Linked DNA regions of Homo sapiens. The protein of the gene in region 3 interacts with the protein of the main gene of each other region in a pairwise test. Each region holds a gene or a part of one and is shown on either strand. Other genes may lie near its edges.

Region 1 (9,976 bases), on a different chromosome or scaffold from region 3:
TTCTTTGGGAGGCTGAAGTGGGAGGATCACTTGAGACAAGGAGTTTGAGACCAGCCCAGGCAACATGGTAAGATCCTGATGCTATACCTGGAGACATGAGACAGAGTGAGACCATATCTTTAAAACAAAACAAGACAAACAATAATGGCTAGCAACCTGTTAAGAGATAGGTAATATAAAGATATAAATTGAGACAACGAAAAGTCAAAATCTAGAGGAATGGAATTAAAGCATATAATTTTTTTCTGTGTGTTTCTGCCTTTGTTTCTACTCTTGTATTTGGGATCTAAGATAAGTTGTTATCTCTTTAAAATAACTTATTATATCTGAAGGTCTTCTTTGTAAGCCTCATGATAACTACAATGCAAAAACCTATAATAAATTCACTAAAAATAGCAACAAAGGAAGGCATACTATAAGAGAAAATCACTTAGCCACAGAGGTTTTTTGTTGTTGTTGTTTGAGATAGGGTCTCACTCTTTCACTCTGGCTGGAGTGCAGTGGTATCATCTCAGCTCACTGCAACCTCTGCCTCCCGAGTTCAAGTGATCCTTCCACCTCAGCCTCCCAAGTAGCTGGGACCACAGGTGTGTGCCACCATGCCTGGGTAATTTTTTGTATTTTTTGTAGACCTGGGTTTTTGCCATGTTGCCCAGGCTGGCTTGAACTTCTGGCCTCAAGCAGTCTGCCCACCTTGACCTCCCAAAGTTCTGGGATTACAGGCGTGAGACACCATGCCCGGCTGTATATAACAATTATAAATACCTATGCATGCAACACCAGAGCTCCCAGGTATATAAGGAAAACATTAATAGATCTAAAAGGAGAGTTAGACTGCAATACAATAATAGTAGGAGATTTTAACACCCCACTCTCAGTAATTGACACATCATCCAGACAGAAAGTCAACAGAGAAACGATGGAATTAAACTACATGCTAGATCTAATAAGCCTAACTGATATTTACTGAACATGTAACCCAACTGCTACAGAATGCACATTCTTTTCATCAGCACGTGGGACATAAGAATAGACCATATCTTAGGCCACAAACAAATCTGAACAAATTTTTAAAAAATATAAATCATATCAAGTATCTTTTCTAATCACAGTGGAATAAAACTAGAAAGCAATAACAAGAAAAACCTTGGAAACTACACAAACGCGTGGAAATTAAATAGCATGCTTCTGAACAACTAATTTGTCAGGGAAGAAATTAAGAAGGAAATGTAAAAATGTCTTGAAACTAATGAAAATAGAAAATGTGACATATCAAAATTTGTGGGATACTGCAAAAGCAGTACTAAGAAGGAAATTTATAGCAATAAACACCTATATCAGAAAAGTAAAAAGACATCAAATGCACAACCTAATGATACACCTCAAGGAACTAGAAAAGCAAGAACAAACCAAACTGAAATTAGTAGAAGGAAACAAATAAAGATTAGAACAGAAATAACTGAAATTGAGACCAAAAAAAAAAAAAAAAAACCCAGAAGAACAATGAAACAAGAAGTTGGATTTTTTTTAAAAGATAAACAAAATCAAGTCTTTAGCTGGACAAACAAAAAAGGAGAAGACCCAAATGAATAAAATCAGAAATGAAAAAGACATAACAGCTGAGACCTCAGAAATACAAAGAAACCATTAGAGACTTATGAACAACTATGACAATAAATTTGAAAACCTGGAAGAAATGGATAAATTCCTAGATGCATGCCAACTACCAAGATTGGACCATGAAAAAATAGAAAACCTCAGCAAACCAATAACAAGTAACGAGATAGAATCTGTAATAAAAAGTCTTCCATCAAAGAAAAGCCCAGGACCTGTTGGCTTCCCTGCTGAATTCTACCAAACATTTAAAAAGAACTAATACCAATCCTATTCAAATTCTTCAAAAAAAAAAAAAAAAATTGAAGAGGAGGGACTACTTCCAAATTCATTCTAGGAGGCCAGCATTGCCCTGATACCAAAACTAGACTAGGATACAAAATAAAAAGAAAACTACAGACCAACATCACTGATGAGCATAGGTGCAAAAATTCTCAATGAAACACTAGCAAACTGAATTCAACAACACATTAAAAAGATCATTCACCATGATCAAGTGGGATTCACTCCAGGGATGCAAGGATGGTTCAACATATGCAAATCAATAAATGTGATATATCACATTAATATAATCAAGAACAAACACCATATGATTATTTCAATAGATGCTGAAAAGCATTTGATAAAATTCATTGCTTTTTGATAAAAACCCTTGTCAAAATTGGTATAAAAGGAACATACCTCAAAATAAGGGCCATATATGACAAACCTACAGCTAACATCAAACTGAAGGCCTTTTCTCTAAGGACTGGAACAAGATAAGAATGCCCATCTCACCACTGTTGTTCAACATAATACCCGAAGTCCTGGCCAGAGCAATTATGCAAGAGAAGGAAATAAATGGCATCCAAACCGGATAGCAAAAAGTCAGGTTAGTCTGTTCGCAGATGATATAATCTTATACCTCGAAAAACCTGAAGACTACACCAAAAAAACTGTTAGTGCTGATAAACAAACTAAGTAAAGTTGCAGGATAAAAAATCAACACTCAAAAATTAGTAGCATTTATATACTTCAATAGTGAACAATCTGAGATAGAAATCAAGAAAATGATCGCATTTACAAAAGCTACAAAAAATATAAAATACTTAGGGAATTTAAATACTAAAAATTTAAACACCAAATTAAGTTAAATTTAGTGTTTAAATTCCCTAGGCATTTTATATTTTTTAGTATTTTATTTATAATTTATAATTTAGCATTTAATTACTAAAGAAGTGAAAGACCTGTATAAGGAAAACTAAAACTCTCATGGAACAAATTGAAGAGGACACAAAAACACTGGAAAGATATTCCATTCTAATGGATTGGAAGAATTTATATTATTAAAATGACAATACTTCCCAAAACAATTTACAGATTCAGTGTAATCACTATCAAAATACCAATGACATTCTTCACAAAAATCAGAAAAAAAAATTCATGTGGTGAGCCCTTAATCTAATGACTCATATTCTTATAAGAAGTCCATATTTGCAAATTGACCAAGGGGTTGAAAAAAAAGAAAGAAAAATGCCCAAGTGAAAACACACACAGGGAGAATGCCATGTGATCACTGAGGCAAAGATTTGTATAACACATCTGCAAGCCGAGGAACACCAAGAATTGCTGACAAACACTAAAAACTTGGAGAGAGGCAAGGAAAATTATCCCATGGAGCTTTTTTTCTTTTCTTTTCTTTTCTTTTTCTTTCTTTTTGAGACAGTCTTGCTCTGTTGCCAGGCTGGAGTGCAGTGGCGCGATCTCAGCTCACTGCAACCTCTGGCTCCCTGGTTCAAGTGATTCTCCTGCCTCAGCCTCCCGAGTAGCTGAGATTACAGGCAAGCGCCATCACGCCCAGCTAATTTTTGTATTTTTAGTAGAGATGGGGTTTCACCATGTTGGCCAGGATGGTCTCGATCTCCTGACCTAGTGATGTGCCCACCTTGGCCTCCCAAAGTGCTGGGATTACAGGCATGAGCCACCACGCCAGGCCTCCCATAGAGCTTTCAAAGATAACATGGCCCTACTGATATCTTGATTTTGGATTTCTAGCCTCCAGAGCCATGAGATAATACAATTCTGTTGTTTTCCACTATTGAGGTTGTGGTACTTTGTTACAAGAGCCATAGGAAAGCAATATAAGTTACAAAACAAATTATGGACTGATAAAGGGAGAAAATAAGGAGGTATGATATTACAGATACACTTCCTTCATTGTGTTTCACTTTATTGTGCTTTGCAGTATTGAAAGTTTGTGATGACCCTGTGTGGAACAAGTCTGTCAGCACCATTTTTCTACAGCATGTGCTCACTTTGTGTCACATTTTGGTAATTCTTAAATTCTTAAACGTGACACTCTGTGTCACATTTTGGTAATTCTTAAAATGTTTCAAACTTTATTGTTATATCTGTCATGGTGATCTGTGATCAGTTATTTTTGATGTTACTATTGAATTTGTTTTGGTGTGCCACAAACCATGCCCGTTTAAAATGTCAGACCTAATCAATAAACATTGTATGTGTCCTGACTCCTCCATTGACCAGCTGTTCCCTCATCTCTTTTCCTTTCCTTGGTCCTTGCTATGTCCTGAGACACAATAATATTGAAATGAAGCCATTTATAATACTACTACTACAGTGACCTCTATGTGTTCAAGTGAAAGGAAGAGTCACATGCCTCTCAGGTTCAATAAAAAGCTAGAAGTGATTAAGTATAGTAAGGAAGGCATGTTGAAAGCCGAGATAGGCCAAAAGCTAGGAGGCCTCTTGTGCCAAACAGGCAGGTGGTGAATGCAAAGGAAATGTTCTTGAAGGAAATGAAAAGTGCTACTCTGGTGAACATATGAATGATAAGAAAGCAAAAAGCTTTTTGCTGATATGGAGAAAGTTTGAGTGGTTTGGATAGAAGATCACACCAGCCACAGCATTGCCTTGAGCCAAAGGCTAATCCAGAGCACATCTCTTACTCTCTTCAATTCTGTGAAGGCTGAGAGAGGTGAGGAAGCTACAGAAGAATAATCGGAAGCTAGCAGAGGTTGGTTCGTGAGGTGTAAGGAAGAAGCCATCTCTATAAAATGCATCAGCAACAAGTGCTGATGCAGATGCTGCAGCAGGTTATCCAGATCTAGCTAAAATCACTAATGAAGGTGGCTACACTAAACAACAGATTTTCAATGAAGATGAAACCACCTTTTATTGAAATAAGATGCCATCTAGGACTTTGATTGCTAGAGAGGAGAAGTCAGTGCCTGGCTTCAAAGCTTCAAAGGACAGCCTGACTTGTTAGGGGCTTACGCAGTTGGTGATTTTAAAGTTGAAGCCAGTGCTCATTTATCATTCTGAAAATCCTAGGGTCCATAAGAATTATGCTAAACCTACTCTGCCTGTACTCTAGAAATGGAACAACAAAGCCTGGATGATAGCACATCTGTTTACAGCATGGTTTACTGAATATTTTAAGCCTACTGTTGAGACATACTACTCAAAAAAGAAAAAAAGATTTCTTTGAAAATATTACTGCTTATTCACAGAGCACCTAGTCACACAAGAGCTCTGAAGGAGAGGTACAAGGAAATTAATGTTTTCAAGCCTGCCAATACAATACACATTCTGTAGCCCATGGATCAAGGAGTAATTTTGACTTTCAAGTCTTATTATTTGAGAAATACATTTTTTAAGGCTATAGCTGCCATAGATAGTGATTCCATAGATAGTGATGGATCTGGGCAAAGTAAATTAAAAACCTTCTGGAAAGGATTCATCATTCTAGATGCCATTAACATTTGTGATTCAAGGGAGGAGGTGAAAATACCAACATTAACAGGAGTTTGGAAGAAATTGGTTCTAACACTCATCATTGTCTTTGAGAGGTTTAGGACTTCAGTGGATAGTGTAGCTGCAGATGTGGTGGAAAGGACTAGTATTAGAAGTGGAACCTGAAGATGTGACTGAATTGCTACAATCTCATGACAAAACTTGAACAGATAAGTTACTTCTTATGGGTGAGAAAAGAAAGTGGTTTGAGATTGAATCTACTCCTGGTGAAGCATTGTTGAAATGACAACAAAGGATTTAGAATATTAAATAAACGTAGTTGATAAAGCAGCAGCAGGTTTGAGATGATTGACTACAATTTTGAAAGAAGTTCTACTCTGGGTAAAATGCTATCAAACAACATTGCATGCTACACAGAAATCTTTTGTGAAAGGAAGAGTCAATCAAGGTGGCCAACATTACTGTTGTCTTATTTTAAGCAACTGCCACAGCCACCGAAACCTTCAGCAACCACCACATTGATTAGTCAGCATCGTTCAACATCGCAGGAAGCCCCTCTACCAGCAAAAAGATCACAACTCTCTGAAGGCTCAGATGATTATTAGCATGTATTAGCAATAAAGTATTTTTAAATTAAGATATATACTTTTTTAGACACAATGCTTATGTACGATTAATAGACTACATAGTATAGTGTAAACATGACTTTCACATGCACTCGGAAGCCAAGAAATTTCTGTGACTTGCTTTATTGTGATATTTGCCTTATTGTGGTGGTCTGGAACTGAACCTGCAATATCTCTGAGGTAGGCCTATGTTTAAATGAGGTGGGCTTTGCCTTTTATTATCAAAATAATTATCTGTAGTTTGGAATAGGGTGATGATGAGTTAAAGAGAAAACATCTTCTGTCTTGAAACCCCCTCCTTGTCAAAACAGATATTCATTCTCTAAAAGACTGGCACTGTGTCCTTTTTCAGGCAACAAGAAAGAGAAAGTAGATTGGAAAATGAGAGAAAATCAAGAGGCTAATGAAACCATGTGGTAGCCTTTTGGGACAGTGTCAGAGAGATAGAAAATCTCAGACAGTTCCCCAAATAAATAAATTCAGTGTATGATTTTTCCAGCCTACATATCATTACTAGCTTTGAAATGTTTTTAAACAATCTTTGTTGATGAAATTCAGTGAGATTTCTGCATTTACATTAGATTCCAAATCTGTTAAAAGGAGTCTCAAAACTCTGTTAGGTATTTGTAGTCAGTTTAATTGCATTTGTTATAACTGCAATATTATATTGAAGTGCTGTTCAACCAAATACATAGAAAATGCTGTAAAATAGTGTGTAGAACAATCCAAGTGAGTCAACTTTTGTGACAATGTCTTTAATCGATGTAAGCTTCCTTCTCTAACTTTCTTGAATTACTGACTTTTTTTCAGTATCATCCTATAAAAACTCTTCAGGTTTCCTATGTTTCAGTGTAGCTGATTTATACTGATTGTAGGTTTGGTTCAGGAGGACACTCAAAAGTCCTGCAGGATGTGGAAGAATTCTTTGTAGTGTGGGACTGTCCCACATATTTCAAGATGCCTAGCATCTCTGGCCTCACCCTCTGAATGGCATCGGCTTGAGGTGGTGGTGGACTTCATTGTTATAACCAGAAAGGTTCCCACAAGTTTACAAAATGCCCTGAGGGGCTGGGACTACCGGTCTACAGCGTGGTATTCAACACCCTTCACAACTGGATTCCTTACCATGTGAAAACAAAGAGGCTATTTTCTTTTTTTGTCTTTTTAGACATTGGTGAAGACTGAGGAAGAAACAGCCCAGGCCGTTGCTGCAGAGAAGTGGTCACATCTGAGTCTGACTCGGAGGAACCTCTGTGGGAACTCAGCTCAGGAGACAGTTATGAGCCTCAGTCCGATGAGTAAGGCCAGGCCTCTGGCTGGACCCCTGTCTGGACTCTCATTTTCCTGTCACTCACCCTGGCTTGGCCCTTGGGAGGCCACGTTTCCTACAGACCCACACCCTTCCTTTCCCTTCTTCTGGCCTCTGCCTCCAGACTTCTAGCCCTTATCACTTTGCATCCTTCCCAATCACATTTTCTTCTGTTACTAATCAGTTTACTGATTGTTGTGGTTATCTTCTCTGATCATCTCTTCTAGTTCCCTGATTCCTTCAGTGACTCCTTTGTATCCTTTTCCCCTTTTTTCTTCCCTGTCAAGGATTCCATATAACTTGTCTTTCAGATATCCCTTCATACTTGGAAGCCCCATGAACACCTCTGTCTGACCTTGTCTTTACCTCAGAGGAGGTCATCTTCACTCTCTAAGAACACGACAGTTCATGTTTATTTTATTTTTTTTAGTTTTTTTAAAGATGGGGTCTCGCTTTGTTGCCCATGCTGGAGCATAGTGGCACGATGATAGTTCACTGCAGCCTCAAACTCCTGGGCTCAACTGATCCTCCCACCTCAGCCTTCTAAAAAGCTGGGGCTACACCCAGGTAATTTTTTGTAGACACGGAGTCTCGCTATGTTGCCCAGGCTGGTCTTGAACTCCTGGCCTGAAGCAGTCCTTCCACCTTGGCCTCCCAAAGCACCCAGCCTAATTTTCTTGAAATGTGCTCTGCCCTGTTGGGCCCTCTCTGCAGCTGGGCTTTGGTGCCTTAATTAACCTTTCTTATCATTTTCCCATACCATGCCACATTTTGTAGGATTGCTGAAACTGTGCACCCTTGAAACACCAATATGATTTGTTTTTTGTTTGATTTGGAACATCTATTCCCTACCCTGGAAGTTTTTTTTTTTTTTTTTTTTTTTTTTTTTCAAAATTCACATAACAGATGACATTTAAATCATTAATGTTATATTTTAGCTGAAGAAATTGTAACTAAAGATAGATTGTTTAAAGCAAAGCAAGAAACTTCTGAAGAAATGGAACAAAGTGGAGAAGCCTCAGGAAAGCCCAACAGGTGAGTGTCCATGGTCCTCAGTGAATCAAATCCTGCAGATATAAGAAATTGGAATGGAATCAGAGAAACCAATTGGTCAAAGGCCTGCTTCTCTGGAATAAGATATGACAACTGCCACTCACTTCTGTGATCATAGGAGGTCCATGCCAAGAAAGTGACCTATTCAAAATTTTCAATATGCAATAAATATACAAAACCTTCAGTTGATACTCAGTTTCCTCCAAGAAGCCTATCCTGATCCAGTCTGTCCTGCTTGATTACCCTTCCCTGGGCTCCCTTACATTTTTATGGAGCTGTGGAGAAGCTAGAAGGCAGATAATTTAACAAGAATGAGGGCTACAGATGAAGCTGCCATGACAGTTAAGAAAGAAATGTCAGAGTGGAAGAGGACAAGCAGGGTACAGGTTGAGCATTCCAAATCTGAAATGTTCCAAAATCTGAGCTGTTTGAGCACCAGCATGATGCTCAAAGGAAATGCTCATTGGAGCATTTTGGATTTTGGATCTTTGGTTAGGGATGCCCAACTGGTATAATGCAAATATTCCAAAATCTGAAAAAAATCCAAAATTCAAAAATCTTCTGACCCCAAGCATTTCAGATAAGGGAAAATTAACCTGTATTTTCAACCGCCATTGGGAGACCTGAACAAGGTATAGGTCAAAAGGAAAGTTAGCTGATGAAGTAGAAATGAATGACAGTGGTGTGTGCTTCATAAGTGCTGGTTGTGGGAATGAATGAACTTGTAACAGATACTCCTATGCAAAGCAAGAAACTTCTGAAGAAATGGAACAAGGTGGAGAAGCCTCGGGAATGCCCAACATTCCGAGGCTTCTCAGGATTGCAGAAAGAGAGGGAACAAATCACAAGCAGAGGGTTGGCTTCTGGTGAGGCCATTTGGTCCTCAGAGACTTGAGAAAAGAGAGAGTAAGCAAGGTGGGCTACTTGGCCAAAGAGCTGAGAAGGGGGTGTGAATTTTCCTTATTGACATTTGTTTAACTTAGAGAAACTGGGAGCTAAATCTCAGCTAAAGTAGAAATGTCTTAAAGCTCAAGAGGAGAAGTGAAATTTTGCATTAAGATTAGTGAAGACTGAGCCAGGCTCCACTAAAGGAAGAGATATGATGTTCAGTAACTTAGAGCAGAGTTATGCAACTGGAGAATAGGAATCTGCTATTGTGCCTGTAGGTACATTTAGTATCAGGCAACTAACAGGTAATTCATAGTGCCTATAATAAAGATATTCATATAACAAAAAGTGTGAAGGTAGGCTATTTCAGGTTAGGTGCAATAGCTTAACCATGGTATCAAAGGTCTAGCCCCCTGCCCTCCTTCTAGTCCCCCTCCCTCACCCCCACCCCACTTTCTTAGCTCACTCTTTTTTCCCATTTCTCACTCCCATTTCCTTCCCTCACAATATTGGGCTTAATGCACTGTGGTTCTTAGAGTTTAGATGTCAACAGTAGAAAGACTCAGTGTGATCAAGGAATGTCACTGAAGTTATGGATGTCAGGGAACTTTAAGATGGATGTGTTGAATACATGCAGACACTGAAGACACCCTGGATGATAAACACTTTACATAAAGAAATGTATGTAGTGTAAATTATATTAAAATATACTCTTCATGCTTCTTAAATG
Region 2 (9,976 bases), 290 kb from region 3:
AGGGTGTGGCAGTTGAGGATGCGCCAGAGCATGCGTGCTGCGATCTTGGTGTGGATCCGTAGCAGGCGGAAGCCATGGTAGTAGTGCCTCAGCTCGCCCAGCACCCTCTCTGCCCCCGGGACTTCACCACCATCTCTGCGGGGGCGCTGTACACAGGGCCGCCTTCCTCCAGCTTCTTGTTCTTGTCCTTCAAGGACTTGAGGGACTTCTCTACTACCGAGTCATCACCAACAGGGCGCGAAGAGTGCCAGCCGCGGGCAGGAAGGCACCGAGGCCCCAGGACCACAAAACCCACAGAGGTGGAGGTCCATGGCGCTCTCGACACGGTGCGAAGGCACTCGGGCCTCAGAGTCCAACAGCTGAGGTGATCGCCTCTGAAGCACGGGTAGGCAGGGTGGGTGGGAGTGCAGCAGCCAAATGAAACTTTCGGGCAGCTCCTCAACCCCAGGGTGCTGGCAAGCTGAGATGAGCAGGATCCCCCGGACTACCCCGCGGGGCGGTGACCCGAGGCGGCGGCGGGAGGCTGGCGGGCGCCCAGCCGCGGCAGCTCCTCATTAAGATGGACGCCGTGTGTCCGGGCGTGGCGGCCGCTCGGGCCTCCTGCGCTGGCTCCTCCTCCTTCTCCGCGGCGGCCGCGGCTCTTCGCCGTCTCGGTGGCTCCTCAGGCGCCGTCCGTGCGGACGGTTGACGGCAGCGGTTGGCCTCGGACAGGAGGCGCCCAGCTTCGATGTTTTTGGTTTTTAAAAAGGTTTAATCCTTCTTCCGCTTCTTTAAAACAAAGCTTTTATTTCTGCTGCCCCCAGAGCATAACCTTTCTGTGGGATAATGATGTATCATTTATTTATTTTAAAATGACACAGGTTGTTTTTTGTTTTGTTTTGTTTTGAGACGGAGTTTCGCTCCTGTTGCTCGGGCTGGAGTGCAATGGCGTGATCTCGGCTCACTGCAGCCTCCGCCTCCTGGATCCAAGCGATTCTCCTGCCTCAGCTTCCGGAGTAGCTGGACTTACAGGTGCACACCACCACGCCCAGCTATTTTTTTGTATTTTTAGTAGAGACGAGGTTCCACCATGTTGGCCACGCTGGTCTCGAAGGCCTGACCTCTAGTGATCCGCCCGCCGCGGCCTCCCAAAGTGCTGGGATTACAGGCGTGAGCCACCGCGCCCGGCCCCAAGAGTCAGAAAGTTTTTTACGCCAGGCACAGTGGCTCACGCCTGTAATTCCAGCACTTTGGGTGGCTGAGGAGGGAGGATCGCTTGAGCCTAGGAGTTTGAGACCAGCCTGGGCAACATAGTGAAACCCCATCTACACAAAAACTAAAAAAATTTTAAAACATATAAAAATTAGCCGGTGCGGTAATGTGTGCCTGTGTTCCCAGCTACTCAGAAGACTCAGGTAGGAAGATCGCATGAGCCCAGAAGGTTGAGGTTGCGGTGAGCCATGATCGTGCCACTGCACTCCAGCCTGGGTGACAGAGTGAGAGTCAGTCTAAGAAAGAAAAAAAAAATGTAAAGCAAAAACTTACAGTAAGATAAATTATATTGAAGAAGGAAATATAGTTGCCAATTTAGTAGCCTAAGTGCACCATGTTTATGAAGTCCACAGCACAATAACCTCCCAGGCCTTCACATTCACTCACCACTCAGACTCACCCAGAGCAACTTCCAGTCTCACAAGCTCCCTTCCTGGCAAGTGCTTTATACAAGTGTACTGTTTTTTATCTTCTATTTTGTATTTTTACTGTACCTTTTCTATGTTTAAATCCACAAACAACATTGTGTTACCGTTGCCCACAGTATTCAGTGCAGCCCCGTGCTGTGCAGGTCTGTAGCCTAGGAGCCATGGGCTGTGCGTGTAGGTGTGTGAGTGCCCTCTGCGATGTATGCACGGTGACGAAACCGCCTAAGGAAGCATTTCTCAAAAGGCTTCCGATGGTAGGCGGTTGTATGCGCTCAGCGATCGCCAGTCGTGCCCACTCCACAGCGCCTCCTGGCGAGCCGGGCTGCCCCGCGCAGAGCAGCTCCACCTGTCCCTCACCTACGCTCCCGCTAATCCCCGGCGACTTCAAAAGCAGAGGTGCCTCAGGCAGTGTTAGCACCCTGGCAGCGGCAATGCCTGGGGCCGCGCTCACCAGCGCCCCGATCCCGGAGCTGCCGTCTCTCCACGCGGGCGCCAGGCCTCAGGCCTAAGGCCTCTCCCTCCACAAGTGCAGCTCGCTCAGGGACGTTGGGGCACCCTGCTGTGGCTGAGCCCCACAGCCTAAACCAGCGCCAACGAGGATCCTCTCAGCCACAGCGGCCCTGGTGGGAGAGGGGTGGGAGGACCTCAGCAGCCTTCCCCACCTACGACCCCCGCAAAAAGAGAGTCCTTGGAGTTGCCGTGTGGTGAGGGGATGGCCTGTGAGCGCGGCTGTGGTTTCCACGTGGCGTCTGGGATGGGAGAGGGAGTCAGATAAGCACATCTGCCGGCAGCGGCTGAGGAAGCCCGTGGCCAACAACTGTGGTCTACCCAGGTTAGATGCCTCCGTTAGATGCAGAAACAGAAACCACGGCCCACGAAACTTTGTTTTGGTGCAGGAGAGGGGCTCTCATGATGATCTTTAAATCTATTTTAGGGCCGGGCGCGATGGCTCACGCACTTCAGGAGGCCGAGGCGGGTGGATCACGAGGTCAGGAGATCGAGACCATCCTGGTGAACACGGTGAAACCCCGTCTCTACTAAAAATACAAAAAAAATTAGCCGGGGAGGTGGCGGGCGCCTGTAGTCCCAGCTACTCCGGAGGCTGAGGCAGGAGAATGGCGTGAACCCGGGAGGCAGAGCTTGCAGTGAGCCGAGATCGCGCCACTGCACTCCAGCCTGGGCTACAGAGCAAGACTCCATTAAAAAAAAAAAAAAGTAAAGTAGAAGTTCCTCTTCAAAGACTTTCCTCCCCATCTAATTAGGAATAAATAGTAACTTCTCTTAGAAGCAAAATTTATTCAAAGACCTGTGCTAACATTCTTATATATCTGCTAGCCATAATAAAAAAAATCAATGTACTTTATGTTCTTAGCTCCCACAATTTAGCCTAAATATTTGCCCTGGTGTGCCTATACTGGTCCAAGCAAGCATTAGGTCATAGCCTGTTCCTCTTCCTTATTTGAAGGTGTTTTTACCTTTCTCAGCATTCCACAAGTTACTTCCTTCTTCCTTGAACTCCTGAACTTGTGATCCGCCTGCCTCAGCCTCCCAAAGTGCTGGGATTACATGCGTGAGCCACTGTGCCCGGCTGTTGATGTTTTTTGAGTTAGGGTCTCACTCTGTCATCCAGGCTGGAGTGTAGAAACATGATCATAGCTTACTACAGCCTTGAACTCCTGGGCTCAAGTGATCCTCCTACCTCAGCCTCCAGAGTTGCTAAGACTACAGGTGCACACCCCTACACCTGGCTCATTTTTTTTTAAGACATGGGGTCTTGCCATGTTGCCCAGGCTGCTCTTGAACTCCTGGGACCAAGTGGTCCTCCCACCTCAGCCTCCCGTGAGGCCTCACTCAAAGTGCTGGGATTACCGGGATGAGCCACCACACCCAGCCGTATTTTGTTACAGCACCCAGAACGGACTAAGCCAGTGGGAGACACACATGTGCAGTCTTTCAGCCTGTTACTTGGCTGCCTGAGAGTGGGTCCTGGGCCTAGAACATCTCCTTACCAAGAGATAAGGGGTCCCCCCAGTTTGTGCTGGGTGTAGTGCCTCGTGTGGAGGTCTCTGTTTCCCAATGTGTGCCCCTTTGTTCTGCTCAGGCGTGTGCTTCACGTGGCACCTAGACAGCCCCACTGTTAGGTCAGGACCCCTCTAGGAGGGACCTGCTGGCCCCGGCCTGACAGCCACATGGGCAGATGGTGCTCTGGCCCGGTCTCTGGTCTGTGAGCAAAACCTTGCTCCATTCATTGTTCGACCGTGCTGTGTTTCCCTTGGCGGCTCCAATACCAAGATCCAGAGGCAGAAAGTGGTCAAACTCAGTAGCCCTGATCATACGAACACATGCTACTCACTTAGCAGTTCTTACTTTTGTTCTTTTGTGATTTACCCATTACCCCTGGATTTCTCTCATGTGTCTGCGTGTCCCCACCCCTGATTTTAATCTCTCCAGCCACACAGAGATCCGCTTGGCTCCCAACCGAGCCGGGCCCCTCCCGTCGCCTTGAGGCCTGCGCAACAGCAGGTCTAGCTGCAGGGGAGCCCTCAGCATTTCCTTCTGGGCCCGCCCAGAATCCTGGGTTCACTGAGGGAAGATGATCGGGGCAGCAGGACTTTCTCAACACACGCAGCATCTGGTGCGGGTGACACAGGAGGATGGGTCTTAACTGCGAGGCTGGGAAAGGACAGGAGGGGCTGGGGTGAGGCCCAGAGGCACACAGCAAACACACAGCTGCACTGACTGCCCTCGCCCAGCACTGAGCCCCAGGAAGCTTGGGGAATCTGTGGGGCAGGCGGGGAGTTTGGAGGCCGGGCTTCCTGGGAGCGCTGGGGACAACCTCACACAGTCCTTGGATGGGGCATCCTTGAGGCCGTCCCAGAAGCGGCACGCATGCCCTGGGGTGCAGGAGCACGGAGCTGGGGGCCCCGGGCTCACCTGCGATGGTTCTTTCTGGGACCTTGGACTCTTCCCATCTTCCTCCTCACCGAAACTCCAGTCCTGGGGTTCGACCGAGTCCAGAGATACCAGAACTGTGCGGGAGAAAGGGATCGTGAGAGGGGCCTGTTCTTCCCAGAGCCCCCAATTCTCCAGGCCTTCTGGGGAGGGCAGACTTTCCCCGAACATCCCTGCAGCACCCCTGAGGCGCAGGCAAGAGTGGCTGCAGGGCTGTCATTCTGTCCCTCCATGTGGCTGCTGGGCAGGAACCTGTGGTGACACCGAGGGCCGCTGAAGACAAGTACCCTCTTCACTCATACTCCACACCCCTGTGCGCCTCCAGAAGCCCACGAGGACACACACTGCAGCACTGACTAACTAGGGAGGCCCGAGCACTGTGAGCCCTCTGCTCCCCAAGCCCCCCGGGGCTGTGTGCACAGAGTGCACAGAGGACGACTGCTGAAGCAGGGTTCAGGACACCATTGACAGAAGGGTCAAGACGTGGGAACCAGGCCAGGCGTGGTGGCTCACACCAGTAATCCCAGCACTTTGGGAGGCTGAGGCAGGAGGACTGCTTGAGCCCAAGAGTTTGAGAGCAGCCTGGGCAACACAGCAAGACCCCCCCCTATTTATTTTTTAATTAAAAAAAGAAAAATTCAAGATCACGGCCACCTCTGGGGTGTCAGGCAGAGCGGGGGACAACAGGACTAGGAGACGTGCATGGGGGTTCAGCTGATTCCACTGGTTGTTCCTTTTTTTTTTTTTTTTTTTTTTGAGACGGAGTCTCGCTCTGTCGCCCAGGCTGCAGTGCAGTGGCGTGATCTTGGCTCACTGCAAGCTCCGCCTCCTGGGTTCAAGCGATTCTCCTGCCTCAGCTTCCTGAGTAGCTGGGATATAATATAGGCACGCGCCACCACGCCCGGCTAATTTTTGTATTTTTAGTAGAGACGGAGTTTCACCATGTTGGCCAGGCTAGTCTCGAACTCCTGCCTTGTGATCCGCCTGCCTTGGCCTCCCAAAGTGCTGAGATTACAAAGCATTTCCTAGGTTGGGCTTTGATAAGGGTGGGTGGCCGGTGCAGGGCTGTTCATTATACTTGCTCTACTGTTTCATAGGCTCAAAATATGGAATGTAGAAAGCAGACCACCGCTATGGAAGACAGATAGAGAGCCCTTTGCTCAAAAACGTTGAATTTTGAGAGTGACCATGGAACATTAAAACTAGCAAGGGTGGCTCTGGGCTGGGATGGCTGTGAGGTCCACAGAGCGCCAGAAGCCAGTGCTCTTGGGCCCTCTACCCCAGGATCAGAGAGTTCAAAGGGCCAATTCATCTGGCTTCTGCCTTGCAGCTTACAGGGCTACCCTTGAGCCTCTGGAAAGCTCAGCTGTCACAGCTTTCCTAAGTGTGGCACCGGCTGCCCTGGGGCAGTAAGGGGACCCTGGACCCTGTGTTCTGCAAACTGCTTATCACTGTTGGTCTACGGAAATGCTGTAGTGGGAGGGTGCAAAGGGAGGGCCTGTTCCTCTCCCTTGCTCCACCCCTCTTTTCTGTGAGCTCTGATGCAACCCTTCTCACTCCCAGCCTTTGCTCCTGCAGCGTGGCTGCCTGGCACCCTCCTTGCTGGGGCCCTGCTGGGGAAGCCCTCCCGAGGCCACAGTGCCACGACTGCTCTCACCATCCGTGGCTGCCTCTTTTGGCCTCCCAGTGTCCAATCCCTGCACTTTTGTCACTAGGAAAGAAAGAGCCCCACTCATGGGACTGGGCCCTGGGTGGATGGAATCTCGACGTGGGGTCACAGGGGCAAAGATGCAGAAGGACAAAGCCCTGTCAGGGGAGAGGGGAGCTGAGAGAGGAGACAGGGAGGGAGCCCAGTTTCAACCCCAAATTTCCCAGCTCCCAGAGTCGGGATGCAGACCTAAGCGTCTCTCCCCACCATCAGCCAGCGATGGGGCCTGCGCCCTGTGAAGGCTTAAGGATCTCTAGGATTCCTGAGTGTTGCAGGAGGCGCTGCAGGTGGCTGGGAGGAAGTGGCGAGGCAGCGTCCTTCCCAGAGAGCAGCCGTGAGGAGCAGCAGACACAAAGCCACAGGACAGATGGACGCATGGGAAATGGAGGGATCTTTAATCACCGACTGAGTGAGAAATTCGAGGCAGATGAGGCGTGCAGCACATTTATATGTAAAAATAATTAAAAACACAGCCGCGGGGCAGGAGAGGTTTGCTGGTCGGGAGGGGCCGGGCAGGGGTGGGAGCGATGTGGGCGGGAAGGAGGGCAGTTCGGTCCTCGGAGACGTCAGGCCCCCTGGCCCGGCCCGGGGCAGGAAGCCTGCGCCTCTCACCTTCCTGCTGGCACATCTGTGTGAGGTCCTCCACCAGGCTGGCGGCCTCCCTGCAGCTTCGGGGGCCCTGTGACTGCACCCAGGTCCGCATCTTGCTGGGCAGCGCGCCCAGGAACTGCTCCAGCACCAGCAGCTCCAGCATCTGCTCCTTGGAGCGCGCCTCGGGCCTCAGCCACTGGCGGCACAGCGTCCAGAGCTGGCCCAGCGCGAGGTGCGGCCCGCTCGCCACGTGGTACTGGAACTGCCGGAAGCGCAGACGCTGGGCTTCGGTGTCCCTGGGGCTTGCTGGCCCAGGGTCTGCGTCCTGCTCACTCGGGGTTGGGGTCTGGGGGCGTCTGGGGGAGGCAGGGGCTTTGGGCCGTGGAAGCATTTCTCTGGCCACAGTGCCCCTCTGAGGGGTGTGTGTGGACTGGATCCCGAGTCCCAGTGGCTCCGGACAGAGCCGGTGTGGCAGGCGGACAGAATCAGCAATCAGGGGCCTGCAGAGAGGGGCAGGGACAGAGGGGTCACATCAGATGGTGGCCCTCTGTACTCAGGATGCCCCTCGGCTCCTTACTTCCTTGTTCTGACCTCCAGCACCCCAAGGAACCAACCTGACCTCTTCCCACCTTCTGACCTAATCTTCCACATGCCTCTCACAGGCTACTTTGCACTGAGTTCAAGCCACTGGCTGCCCCAGGACCTTTGCACCTGCCATCCCACCCCAGCCCCTCCCCTTCCCACCCCAGCTCCTCCCCTCGCAGATGTCCTGGCCATCATCCTTATGGCACTGTCTTCATAACCTCCATGACTTTCTGAACACAACTTTTCCCCTTACTTAGTGTCTATCTCCCTCTCATTTAGTCATTCAACACACATTGACTGACGAGCTGCGGGAACAAGAATGCCTGCCCCGTGGTGTGGCCAGCACTGCCCAGTGAAGTTCCTACAGGGATGTAAAGATTCTCTACCCATGCAACCACCTACGTGTGGCTAGGAGCACCTGAAATAGGAACTGAATTTTAAATTTAAATTCCATTTAAATGGAAGCAGCCAGGTGGGCTACATAATAATGGATGACACCACCACCAGCAGCAGGTCTACCCATGGTGTTATCTTTGCTGTCTTCCTGACTTTCCTACCAGGTCCAAGCTGGGGGTGGAGACCAGGAAGAGGGCAAGGGAGACTGGAGACTCTGAAAAGAGAGGGAAAGTGGGAAGAGTAATTTTAAAATAACCTTTTGTGGCCGGGTGCCGTGGCTCACACCTGTAATCCCAGCACTTTGGGAGGCCCGGGTGGGTGGATCACCTGAAGTCAGCAGTTCAAGACCAGCCTGACCGACATGGCGAAACCCCGTCTACTAAAAATACAAAAATTAGCCGGCGTGGTGGTGCACACCTCTAATCCCAGCTACGTGGGAGGCTGAGGCAGGAGAATTGCTCCAACCCAGGAAACAGAGGTTGCAGTAAGCCAAGATCGCACCACTGTACTCCAGCCTGAGTGACAGCGTGAGATTCCATCCCAAAAAAAATAAATAACCAAAAATGAGTTGGGCGTGGTGGCACGCACCTGTAATCCCAGCTACTCGGGAGGCTGAGACAGGAGAAATGCTTGAACCCAGGAGGCGGAGATTGCAGTGAGCTGAGACTGTGCCACTGCACTCCAGCCTGAGCGACAGAGTAAGACTCTGTCTCAAAAAAAAAAAAAAAAAAGAAAAGAAAAAAAAGAAGTTACCTTTTGTACATTTTCCAAGCCGACTATGGTGAACATATAACTGAAGAAAACATTAAAAGTTGTAAAAATAAAAATAAGCAGGGAGGTTTCGTTTGTTTGTCTTTAACAATTGTACTCTGGACTGATCCGCTGGTGAGAATATAAATTGGCACGACCTTTCTGGAAAGCACTGTGGCCATTTATATATCAAGAACACTTGGTAGACTGCGTGCAAGATGCGAGATTCAGGCACCAAGATTCACTACAAAAGTGCCCAACAGTTGAACGTGGTGGGATCAACTACCTCCCCCATCATGTGATGGGAGTATTCAACCGTGCCCAGTACACAACACTATGACATGACCACGGGGAGTAGACACATGATGTACAGATGACATGAGGCACAGGGAACGTGGGATGCAGGATGATGCGTGAGTGTCATAGAAAGGGAGTCCTGGGAAGACGCCCATGGGGGGCGGCCAAGTGCTTTGTGCTGTTCATACTTCTCTGAATCTCCTCCAAATGGTGTCGGGCTCCCATGTGACCTTCATCAACATGGAAAAACAAAACAAAACAAGACATCTTTAGGAAGGATTTTTGACCATATGGGAAATGCTTATGACAAGTGAAAAGGAGGGATTCCATGGGATTTTTCCCTCTTCATCCTCTGCTGCATTTTTCATACACTCTGCAGTTCTCGTGCATCTGGTTTTACAATCCAGGAGAAAGGAGAGGTGCAGGGTGGCAGAAAGGCAACTCACGGGGACTGTGCCCAGCCAGCCATCTTCGAGTCAGCGTACCCGGCCACCTGCACCCTGATTGGGAAACTACCAGCTTGGTCTTCCCTGCCAAGGCCACAGGCAAAAATGCTCTCTTATGTTGTATTCACACTTTTATATATGTAGTTTTGAATAAGAAAAAAGGGCCTATTTTGAAGCTCCACAGGTTCAAGAAATCCCTTTGCCCTGGGGCCTCAGACCTTATACTCTCTCAGGTGCTCATGGCAGCTCACCCTGGAGACTCTAGGGAGGGGGGCTGTAGCCCCTCAGCATCCTCCAGGGTCCTGGGCTGAGGTCTGTGGGAGGAGATGCTAAGTTTATCAGGGATGAGGGTAAAGAGGAGGTCTTAGCAGAAGGCACCAGAGGTCCATGGGTGTGTCTGGGGTCTATATGGGGGCTGATGTGGAACACCTAGGCCAATGTGGGGGTACCTGAGCTGATGAGAGTCCTGGACTGATGGGTGGCTGTTTCTGGAAGATGAAGAGGGCCTGGGATGATGTGAAGGGGACTGAGGTCTACATGGCTGGTGAGGAGGATCTGGGCCCCCCCATGGG
Region 3 (10,343 bases):
GAGTATATGTCCTCACAAAACTTTATACATAAATGTGCATAACAGCATTACTCATAACAGCAAAAAAGGAGAAACAATCCAAATGTCCACCTGATGAATGGATAAAATGCTGTATATACCTATAATGGAACACTATTCACCATAAACAGAAATGAAGTACTGATTAATGCTACAACATGGATGAACCTTGAAAACATGATGCTAAGTAAAAGAAGAAAGACACGGCAGGGCACGGTGGCTCACACCTGTGATCCCAGCACTTTGGGAGGCCGAGGTGGGTAGATCACCTGAGGTCAGGAGTTCAAGACCAGCCTGGCCAACACAGTGAAACCCCGTCTCTACTAAAAAATACAAAAATTAGCTGGGTGTGGTGGCAGGCACCTGTAATCCCAACTACTCAGGAGGCTGAGGCAGGAGAATCTCTTGAACTTGGGAGGCAGAGGTTGCAGTGAGCCGAGAGTACACCACTGCACTACAGCCTTGGCGACAGAGGTAGACTCCATCTCAAAAAAAAAAAAAAAAAAAAAAAGCATATTAGTGTTTGTCAGAGGCTGAAGAGAGACAAAAATGAGAGTGGTTGCTAATAGGTTTGGGAATTTCTTTTGGGGATGATAAAAATGTTCTGGAGGCCAGGCGCGGTGGCTCACGCCTGTAATCCCAGCACTCTGGGAGACCGAGGCGAGTAGATCACGAGGTCAGGAGTTCAAGACCAGCCTGACCAATATGGAGAAACCCCATCTATACTAAAAATACAAAATCAGCCGGGCGTGGTGGTGCATGCCTGTAATCCCAGCTACTTGGGAGGCTGAGGCAGAAGAAACCCTTTAACCTGGAAGGTGGAGGCTGCAGTAAGCCGAGATTCTGCCATTGCACTCCAGCCTGGGCAACAAGAGTGAAACTCCATCTCAAAAAATAAAATAAAATAAAAATACAGCTTTTAAAAAAATAATGTTGGCCAGGCACGGTGGCTCATGCCTGTAATCCCAACACTTTGGGAGGCCAAGCTGGGCCGATCACAAGGTCAAGAGATCGAGACCATCCTGGCCAACATGATTAAACCCCGTCTCTATTAAAAATACAAAAAAATTAGCTGGGCGTGGTGGCGTGTGCCTGTAGTCCCAGCTACTTAGGAGGCTGAGGCAGGAGAATCTCTTGAACCCGGGAGGTGGAGATTGCAGTGAGCCGAGATCACGCCACTGCACTCCAGCCTGGCAACAGAGACTCCATCTCAAAATAATAATAATAATAATAATAATAATAATAATAATAATAATAATAACGTCAGCTGGACGCGGTGGCTCACACCTGTAATCCCAGCACTTTGGGAGGCTGAGGCAGGTGGATCACAAGGTCAGGAATTCAAGACCAGCCTGGCCAGCATGGCGAAACCCCATCTCTACTAAAAATATGAAAACTAGACAGGCGTGGCAGCGGGGGCCTGTAATCCCAGCTACTTGGGAGGCTGAGACAGGAGAATTGCTTGAACCCGGGAGGTGGAGGTTGCAGTGAGCAGAGATTGTGCCACTGCACTCCAGCCTGGCCGACAGAGTGAGATTCTGTCTCAAAAAAAAAAAAAAAAAAAGTGCATTTGATAATTGTTGGGTGTTCTCTCCCTTATTTAAGTCAGGCCTCTACACAAAAGACGCCTTATCAGTAAGTCTCTGTGCTTCTACACTGCTTTATTTGCTCTTTACCACCTGATGTGTGATACACGTATGTGGTTACTTGTTTATTATTTACTTGTCCCTGTTGGAGTATCAGCACATTAAGGGCAGGGGTTTTTGTTTAGGTCTTTGCTTTATCCCCAGTGTCTACAGCATTGCTGGGCACATACATCAATAATAATACTTTTGTTCAGCACAGCCCCATTAGGTGCCTACTCTGTGCCCAGCACTGTACTAGGAATGCAAATACGGGGAAGGCATGGGTGCTGGGCTCAATGGCCTCAACGGAAGGACAGCGACCAACACATGATAAGATAATTATGATGATGGATATGGGTATAGTGTGCAACAGGAATAAAAGAAAATGGGAACAGACAGTCAGTGGGAACCTACCGGCTACCAGGCCACACTAGCCTTTGGCATCTGTTATCCCATTCAAGCCTTAGCTCCACCCTGTGAGTCAGTATTACCACTCCCATTTTCCAAGTTGGGGAAAGTCAGCTGCTAGAGTCATCTGGTCAGTAGGAACAAAGCTAGTGTTTGAGCTCAGGCTATCTGCGATCTTTCCTCCACACTCAAAGCCTTTCCAAATTCTAGAACTGTGAGCACTGAATGCTGGTCAGGGACAGCAAAAAACTACTTTCATGTACTATTGGTGAGGGCAATCAATTAGAATATCTTTGGCAAACAATTTGGCAGTATGTTGTAAGAGCTTTAAAATGACTGTGCTCTCTGCCTCAATATTAATTCTACTTCTCAGAATCTAGCCCCATTTCTAGATGGGGGTGCTACCGACATTCAGAGGGAGATAATACTTTCTTTTTGAAAAAATTCTTTTTTTCTCCAGACGGAGTCTTGCTTTGTCGCCCAGGCTGGAGTGCAGTGGCGCAATCTTGGCTCACTGCAAGCTCTGCCTCCTGGGTTCACGCCATTCTCCTGCCTCAGCCTCCCGAGTAGCTGGGACTACAGGCACCCACCACCACACCCAGCTATTTTTTTTTGTACTTTTAGTAGAGACGGGGTTTCACCGTATTAGCCACGATGGTCTCGATCTCCTGACCTCATGTTCCGCCCACCTCAGCCTCCCAAATTGCTGGGATTACAGGCATGAGCCACTGCGCCTGGCCGCATGTAGGCAATGCTTAACTTTTTAAGAAACTGCCAGGCTGTTTTGCAAATTGGCTATACCATTTTGCATTCCCACCAGTTGTGGATGAGGGTTCCAATTTCTCTACATCCTTACCAAGGTATTTTATACTATGGTAGTTCCCCCTTATCTGCAGGGGATGTGTTCCAAGACCCTCCAGTGGATGCCTGAAACCATGGATATTACTGAACCTTATATATTCTATATTTTTTTCTTATTATATACCCTTGATAAAGTTCATAAGTTAGGCATAGTAAGAAATTAACAACAATGACTAATAAAATAGAACAATTATAACAATACACTGTAATAAAAGCTATATTAATGTGGTCTTTCTCTCTCTCTCAAAATATTTTATTGTACTATATTCACCAAAACTGAAGATGAGGGGTGACTACTGTATTACTTTTCTTGACATTCTCTACTTCCCACAGTGAATTTGTTTTCTCTTATAGTCAGGAAGAATACCCTAAATTAAGTGTAACCTCTCCTAGGAGACCTCGACACTTTGCTTTGGCCACATACTACTCCTTACTCAAAGACTTAGCCTCTCCCTCTCCCATCCACGACTCCCACAGTTTTAAGTATTTGGAGTTCTTTTTCCTTTCCTTCAATGTCAGCCAGGACGCTCAGTGTGCCTGGAGTCTCTGCTCAAGGAAGTCACCCTGGACAGAGATGCAGGAGGCCTGAGAAAGAGCAATGGCCTTGGGCACAGGAAGAAGAGAACGTTACTCTAAAACAAGACCCCAATCCTGAAACCTTTTGGTGACCGCTGGTGACCTCTGGTGGCCTCTGGCCAAGCTGCGTTTAAGCCCCTTCGCCGCACTGTAAAGTTCTCCTGGGTCTCTTGTGGCCTTTCTAAGCCCCTTGTCGCCCCTGCTGCTCTCGAGTTCTGAAATCCGTCTCTGACGGATTCCTCTGGGCTCTCTAGGCCTCATCTTAGCTGCCACTTTCCTCAGGTGTCATCCCAGATACCTGGTACTAGTCTAAGTCCTCTTCCCAGAGTGCCCTGGGTAACTCTTTGCTAGTTCTGTACTGTTTCCTCAGAGAGGCTGGGCTGTCCTGGAGCCACAGCACACAGGACTTGCCCTATAGCAGGTTCACAATAAGCAGGCATTAAGCAAATGGAATGACCAGTAAAGGCTGAGCATGGTTACCCAAGAATGTAGGGAATCATGAGGGGAAGGAGGAGCAAGGGTGGCAGGGATGACAATAGATGCTGCAACAGCTTCCAAGTTCTCTTTTGCACCCCTGGAACACCTGTTCTGGAGAAATCCCTCATGACGGTCTCTGAAATACATGTATGTGAAACTTCCTCAGCCTCCTCAGCCAACCTCAACTCCTATCAGGTTGAGGTTCCCCATCCACAGCTGCTTTACCAACCAAGGAGGGTGGTTCTTTTCATTTCTCACACATGGATTATACCAAGCCTGATAATGGTACCTACCTCAGAGGGTTGCTATGAGATTATGTGAGGTGATTTATTATAAGTGTCCAGCACAGGCCTGGTGCACAGTAAACATGCAGTAGATGTATGGATACCATAGCCCCCTGCTACACGTAAGCAAACACTGGGGGACATATCCATAAGCCCAGCTGAATGACCACTAGTCACTCAGTTTCAGCTGCAGACATGGCAAAGCACAAATCCTCTCTCATATGCTTGGTAAACTGTTTGTGGATCACCCAAGTTTTAGTCTCCCTGATAAAAATCTCAGTCAATCAGATATTAACACATATTATCTCAGGTACAGTCTGTCAGCCACAGCCTTCAAAATACCCAGACACAGGAAATATCTCAATGTCACCTATAATCAGTCAAATAAACACAGGCCTGGCCAGGCATGGTGGCTCATGCCTATAATCCCAGCACTTTGGGAGGCCTAGGCAGGTGGATCACCTGAGGTCAGGAGTTCCGGGCCAGCCTAACCAACATGGTGAAAGCCCGTCTCTACCAAAAATACAAAAATTAGCCAAGTGTGGTGGCCGGTGCCTGTAATCCCAGCTACTCGGGAGGCTGACGCAGGATAATCGCTTGAACCCGGGAGATGGAGGTTGCAGTGAGCCGAGATTGCGCCACTGCACTCCAGCCTGGGCAACAGAGCAAGACTCCGTCTCAAAAATAAACACAGGCCCTCGCAGCATTTCCATCACACAGTATTATTCTGATCACAGTCATTCATAATCTTAGTCACCATCTCAAGGACACACAAAGAAAATCAGTCACACTTGAAATCCCACCGTCACACGCTCACCCTCTCACAGTATCTCACAACCCACGTAGGAAGTCTCAAACGGCAACCATCTCTGTCAGTCACACACTCCATGGTTAGTGTTACACTCAACCTATCAGAATCACACACTCCAACCCGTCAGATACACACACCCAAGAGGTGTCAGACACAGAACCGCCTATCAGACACATAAACGGGTCCGCCCCACACCCTCCCAGGCCACTGGTCCTACATTTTATCTGTTATCTGTCCGCCCGCTCCACACTTCGTCCGCCCCACACCCGGTCAATCAGTCCATCCGACACACACTCCGTCAGTCCGACACATTCTCCGTCGGTCCGTCCGGCACTCAGTGTGTCATTCCGCACCACATTCGGTCCGTGAGTCTGTCCACACCGGGTCCGTCAGTCCGTGCACACACGGTCCGTCCACGCCTGGTCCGTCAGTCCGTCACATCCTCTGCGCGTGTGTCCGGCACTCGCAGTCCGTCTACTCACGTCCCCTAGTCAGCCTCTCACTCTCTACCCGCTGGGCGGTACCCCGCATCTCGCTCTGGCCGCCCCAGAGGTTCGCGGCTTCTGGACCTGCTGTGCCCCTCTCCAGCCTGGATCAGGACGGAGAACACCCCCGAAACCCACCTCACCAGCACAGCCGGCGGACCCTTCCGGAGGTGGCCGCAGAGACTAGCCAACTTGCGCGCCCGCCGACCCGGACCACAGCTCCCAGCACACCTCAAGGGCCCACGCCCGCCAGGACTACAATTCCCGGCGTCCTCCGGAAGCTCAAGTGTACCCAGGCGCGGTGCCTGCTGGGAATTGTAGTTGACGTTGGTCAGCACGGAGGCCACAGGATCCCAGCCCGGCCTTTGTGGGACTGAGGTGGCGCTGAGTGGGAGAGCAGCAGGCGATGCGCGAAAGGCGGGACTTGGAGGTGAGGGAAATGTGAAGGCTGAGGGTGAGAGTGCCTGTGTGAGGCTGAGGGTGCCTGTGTGAGGGTGAGGGTGAGGGCGGCTGTGTGAGGGCTGAGGGCTGAGGGTGCCTGTGTGAGAGCTGAGGGTGCCTGTGTGAGGCTGAGGGTGCCTGTGTGAGGCTGAGGGTGAGGGCGGCTGTGTGAGGGCTGAGGGTGCCTGTGTGAGAGCTGAGGGTGCCTGTGTGAGGCTGAGGGTGAGGGCGGCTGTGTGAGGCTGAGGGTGGCTTTGGGAGGGCTGAGGGTGTTTGTGTGAGGGGTGAGGGGTAAGGGTGAGGCAAGAAAATCGGGTCTGGAGGCAGGGAACCTAAGGACTTCCTAGAAGTAAATCAAATGGAAACTGCAGCTATGGTAGGAAATATCCTCTCCATTTATGCAGGGCGTACATGGAGTAAATCACTTTGTAACTTTACTTCGTCCTCTTCATTTACATAGGGCATATACCAAGTAACCAATGGAAACCTCTAGAGGGTATTTAAACCCCAGAAAATTCTGTAACCGGGCTCTTGAGCCCCTATGCTCCGGCCTGCTCCCATACAGTGGAGTGTACTTTCATTTTCAATACATCTCTGCTTTTGTTGCTTCATTCTTTTCTTTGTGCATTTTGTCCAATTATTTGTTCAAGATGCCAAGAACCTGGACACCCTCCACCAGTAACAAGGGTACCTGGGTGAGAGGTGAGGGTGCCCATGTTAGGAGTGAGGGGAGAGGGTGCCTGTCTGAGGGCTTGTGGGTGTGAGTGTCTGTGTAAGTACTGAAGGTGCCTTTGTGAGAGGTGAGCGGTGTGGTTGCCTATGTCAGGGTGTGTATTGAGTGTAGCTATGTGTGGCTCTCTGTGAACACATGTAATCATTTTTATAAATGTGTATCATTTTTTACTGAATTTGAGCTGGGCGTCTGTCTGCATGAGTCACTCTGTGACCAGGTTTGTGGGTTGTTCTGTGTGCTTACTCTGCGTGTGTGTGACCTGTGATTTAATCATCATATGTGATAATCATGCAGCTGTGTTTGCCTGCACCAGGTGTAATTGTGTCTGAGACAGATACTTAGAGGTAATGGGGTGGACCTGACACAGTATAAAGGCCCTAGACTGTGTGTGATGTTGTTACGGTGACTGTGAATGGTAGTGTGATTGTGTGATTCAGTCGATGCCTGGACTGTGTGTGAGAATGTATCTTCTCTGTGTGTGTGTGTATGTGTAAGAGACATTGAGCAGGAGACTCTGGCTTGGGGCCCGATACATAGAGGTTGGTGGCCCAGCCTATGTTCAGGTGAGGCCTTTTTGAGGCAGGGTGTGTATGATTGCTTGGTGGTGCTGGTGGTGTTTCTTGGCCCCAGCCTGTGCTCACATCCCCTATTATTCTCAGACTTTGCCCTGCAGACTGCTAGCAGCTGGAATGAGCATATATTCTTTTCCTTCCACAGATAAATACTGAGCACCCACAACAGGCAGCCAGCACCACTGCAGATTGGATACTGCAATGATGATAAGCATGGCCTGCCTTTATGGAGGTGATGTTATTGTGTGGGGAGGCAGATGGTAAACAAAGAAGTCATTTTTCTGAGAAGTTGGTATTTAAGCTGAGGCCTGAATAGAGCGAAGAACTCAGGGAGAGTAAGTTCAAGGTAGATGGAACACAAATGCCCACGTCAGGAGGAGGCATGGATGAGGAAGACTGGCTGGGGTGGATTAAGGGAAGGAGATGGGAGGGGACAAGGACAGAAAAGGGAGGCCTGTGGGGGCAGATCTTGAAGGGCTTGTGAGCCACATACGACTTTGTTTATTTATTTTTTGTAGAGACAATGTCTCACTGTGTTGCCTAGGCTGCTTTTGAACTCCTGGCCTCAAGCAATCCTCCTGCCTCAGCCTGTCAAAGTGCTGGGATTACAGGCGTGAGCCACCACACTTGGCTCACATACAGACTTTGATTTCCACCTTGAGAGAAGTGGGAGCTATGGGAGGCCTTTGAGCAGAGGAGGGCTGTGCTGTGACTTAGCTCTTCATAGGAATTCTCTGGCCGCTGCAGGAGAAGACTGTCAAGATGAGAGTGGAGTCAGGGAGACCAAAGATGCAATTGCTTTGAGAGTACTGGCACCTGAGGCAGGTAGCTCAGATCAGGGTGGTCAAACGGTGGTGTGGTAGAGATGCTAACAGGTGGTCAGATCTGGATCTGTTTTGAAGGTGTATCAGGGGTGTCCACTCTTTTGGCTTCCCTGGGCCACATTAGAAGAATTGTCTTGGGCCACACATAAAATATACTAATGATGGCGGATGAGTTTATTAAAAATCGCAAAAAAAATCTCATAATGTTTTAAGAAAGTTTATGAATTTGTGTTGGGCTGCATTCAAAGCTGTCCTGGGCCACATACAGCCCGTGGGCTGTGGGTTGGACAAGTTTGGTATAGATGATAGGGTTGATGGGTTGAACTACAGTGTCCAAGGGGTGAGCAAGGCTGACCCAGGTGCCTGATAGTGCCCTCTGATTATGGGTGGGAGGAGGGTGTATTAGTTTGCTAGGACTGCCATAACAAAATACCACAGATTTGGTGGCTTAAACGATAGTTTAAAGTTTATTTTCTGGGCCAGGCACGGTGGTTCATGCCTGTAATCCCAGCACTTTGGGAGGCTGAGGTGGGCGGATCATGAGGTCAGGAGATCGAGACCATCCTGGCTAACAAGGTGAAACCCCGTCTCTACTAAAAATACAAAATAAATAATAAATAAATAAAATAAAATCAGCCGGGCGTGGTGGCAGGTGCCTGTAATCCCAGCTACTAGGGAGGCTGAGGCAGGAGAATGGCGTGAACCCGGGAGGTGGAGTTTGCAGAGATCCGAGATCACGCCACTGCACTCCAGCCTGGGCGACAGAGCGAGATTCCATCTCAAAAAAAAAAAAATTTTTTTTATTTTCTGACAGATCTGGAGGCTGGAAGTCCCCAGATCAAGGTGTCAACAGGTTTGGTTTCTCTTGAGGCCTCTCTCCTTGGCTTGTAGATGGCTGCCTTCTCACTGTGTCCTCACATGGCATTTCCTCTGTTTGCACATGCCCCTACTGTCTCTCTCTCCTTATAAGGACACCAGTCATGTTGGATTAGGACCCATCCATATCTTCTTTAACCTTAATTACTTATTTAAAGGTCTTATCTTCAAATACAGTCATATTCTGAGGTATACTGGGGGTTAGGACTTCAATATATGAATTTTGGGGGGACACAATTCAGTCCATAACGGGTGAATGGACAGTGGCATCAGTGTGGGGATCCTTAGACCCCTTTTCAGGGAGATTCTAAGGAGGAAACGAGCGAGATAGGGCAGCAGCTGGAGGGGACTCTGGTGTCAGGGAGAGGAAGAAGAGCCCTGGTTGACATTTAATGGGTATAGGGTGACTTGGAAAGCCAATGGAATCTCTCCTCATTGGCTCCTTTTCTGCCTAGATTGTGAGTCTGTGCTGTTAGGCCTGAGAGGGGTCCTGCCCTTTACATAGCCGAGGCCAGGGTATCCTTGATGCCTTGTACAGGGCTAGGTACTAAGAGTTGGCTGAGGAATGACTGAATGACTGGCAGACCAACAATGTTCCCTTGCCTGGAGCTGCATAGCTGGATTCTCCTCATTCATCTCCTGCACCCACCATGGCACCTGTAGTCAATACTGCAGACCTTGGAAGGCCCTTTCCCTTGGCCACCCCTTTTGTGCTTGTGCTCTGTTCAATCAGCATTCTGGCCTCTGGACTCTCCTGAGTGGATGCTCCTCCTTTCCTCTCTCCCTTTGTCTCTTTCTTATCCTCTCCCCAGATTTCAAACCTTATCTTTTTCAGGGAGTATTCACTTTAATTTGGCAATTGTATCAGCTATTGCTCTGTAACAAACAGCTACGACACCTCTGTGGCCCACAGCAAAAAAAGTGCTTATTTTTGTCATGTGTCTGAGGGTTGGCTGATCTGGGCTGGGCTCAGCTGGGCTTGGCTCTAGGCTGCAGTTTGGGTCCAGGTCTGCTGTATTTGTCTTGCAAGGCTCACAGGAAAAATTCTTCTCATCCTGATGGCAGAGACACAATGGGCTTTAGGCCTGGACTCAGGACTAGCATGCTATCACTTCCACTTAGATTCTGTTGGCCAAATCAAGTCACATGGCCACACCCAAACTCAAGGAATGGGTGGGGACATCAAATTTGCCTTTACTGGGAAGAACCATAAATATGGCCGTGGGTGTATATATGCAAGGAGCAGTGAAGAATTGAGCTAGTAATTCAATCCACTACAATAATACTTTTGGTTTCTTTTCCTTCCATGTAGAAAGCCAACAAAATCATTTGTGACCCTGGTTTCTTTCAGT

What was found.
Region 1: the proteins of ZSCAN22 (region 3) and PGBD1 interact in binary tests that used the Homo sapiens proteins (3 or more experiments, as listed by UniProt).
Region 2: the proteins of ZSCAN22 (region 3) and ZSCAN1 interact in binary tests that used the Homo sapiens proteins (3 or more experiments, as listed by UniProt).

Annotation. Positions count from the first base shown.
Region 1 is NC_000006.12:28,289,652-28,299,627, forward strand, and holds part of PGBD1 (piggyBac transposable element-derived protein 1), read left to right. Parts: intron 1-7,164; coding exon 7,165-7,294; intron 7,295-7,735; exon of another isoform or gene 7,736-7,872; intron 7,873-8,243; coding exon 8,244-8,340; intron 8,341-9,976.
Region 2 is NC_000019.10:58,035,182-58,045,157, reverse strand, and holds part of ZSCAN1 (zinc finger and SCAN domain-containing protein 1), read right to left. Parts: exon of another isoform or gene 9,189-9,976; 5' UTR 9,147-9,188; exon of another isoform or gene 8,676-9,146; coding exon of another isoform or gene 8,665-8,675; intron 7,431-8,664; coding exon of another isoform or gene 7,322-7,430; coding exon 6,952-7,321; intron 4,709-6,951; coding exon 4,614-4,708; intron 719-4,613; exon of another isoform or gene 1-718. UniProt on the Homo sapiens protein: May be involved in transcriptional regulation.
Region 3 is NC_000019.10:58,322,455-58,332,797, reverse strand, and holds the start of ZSCAN22 (zinc finger and SCAN domain-containing protein 22), read right to left. Parts: upstream 5,805-10,343; 5' UTR 5,684-5,804; exon of another isoform or gene 4,259-5,683; intron 1-4,258. UniProt on the Homo sapiens protein: May be involved in transcriptional regulation.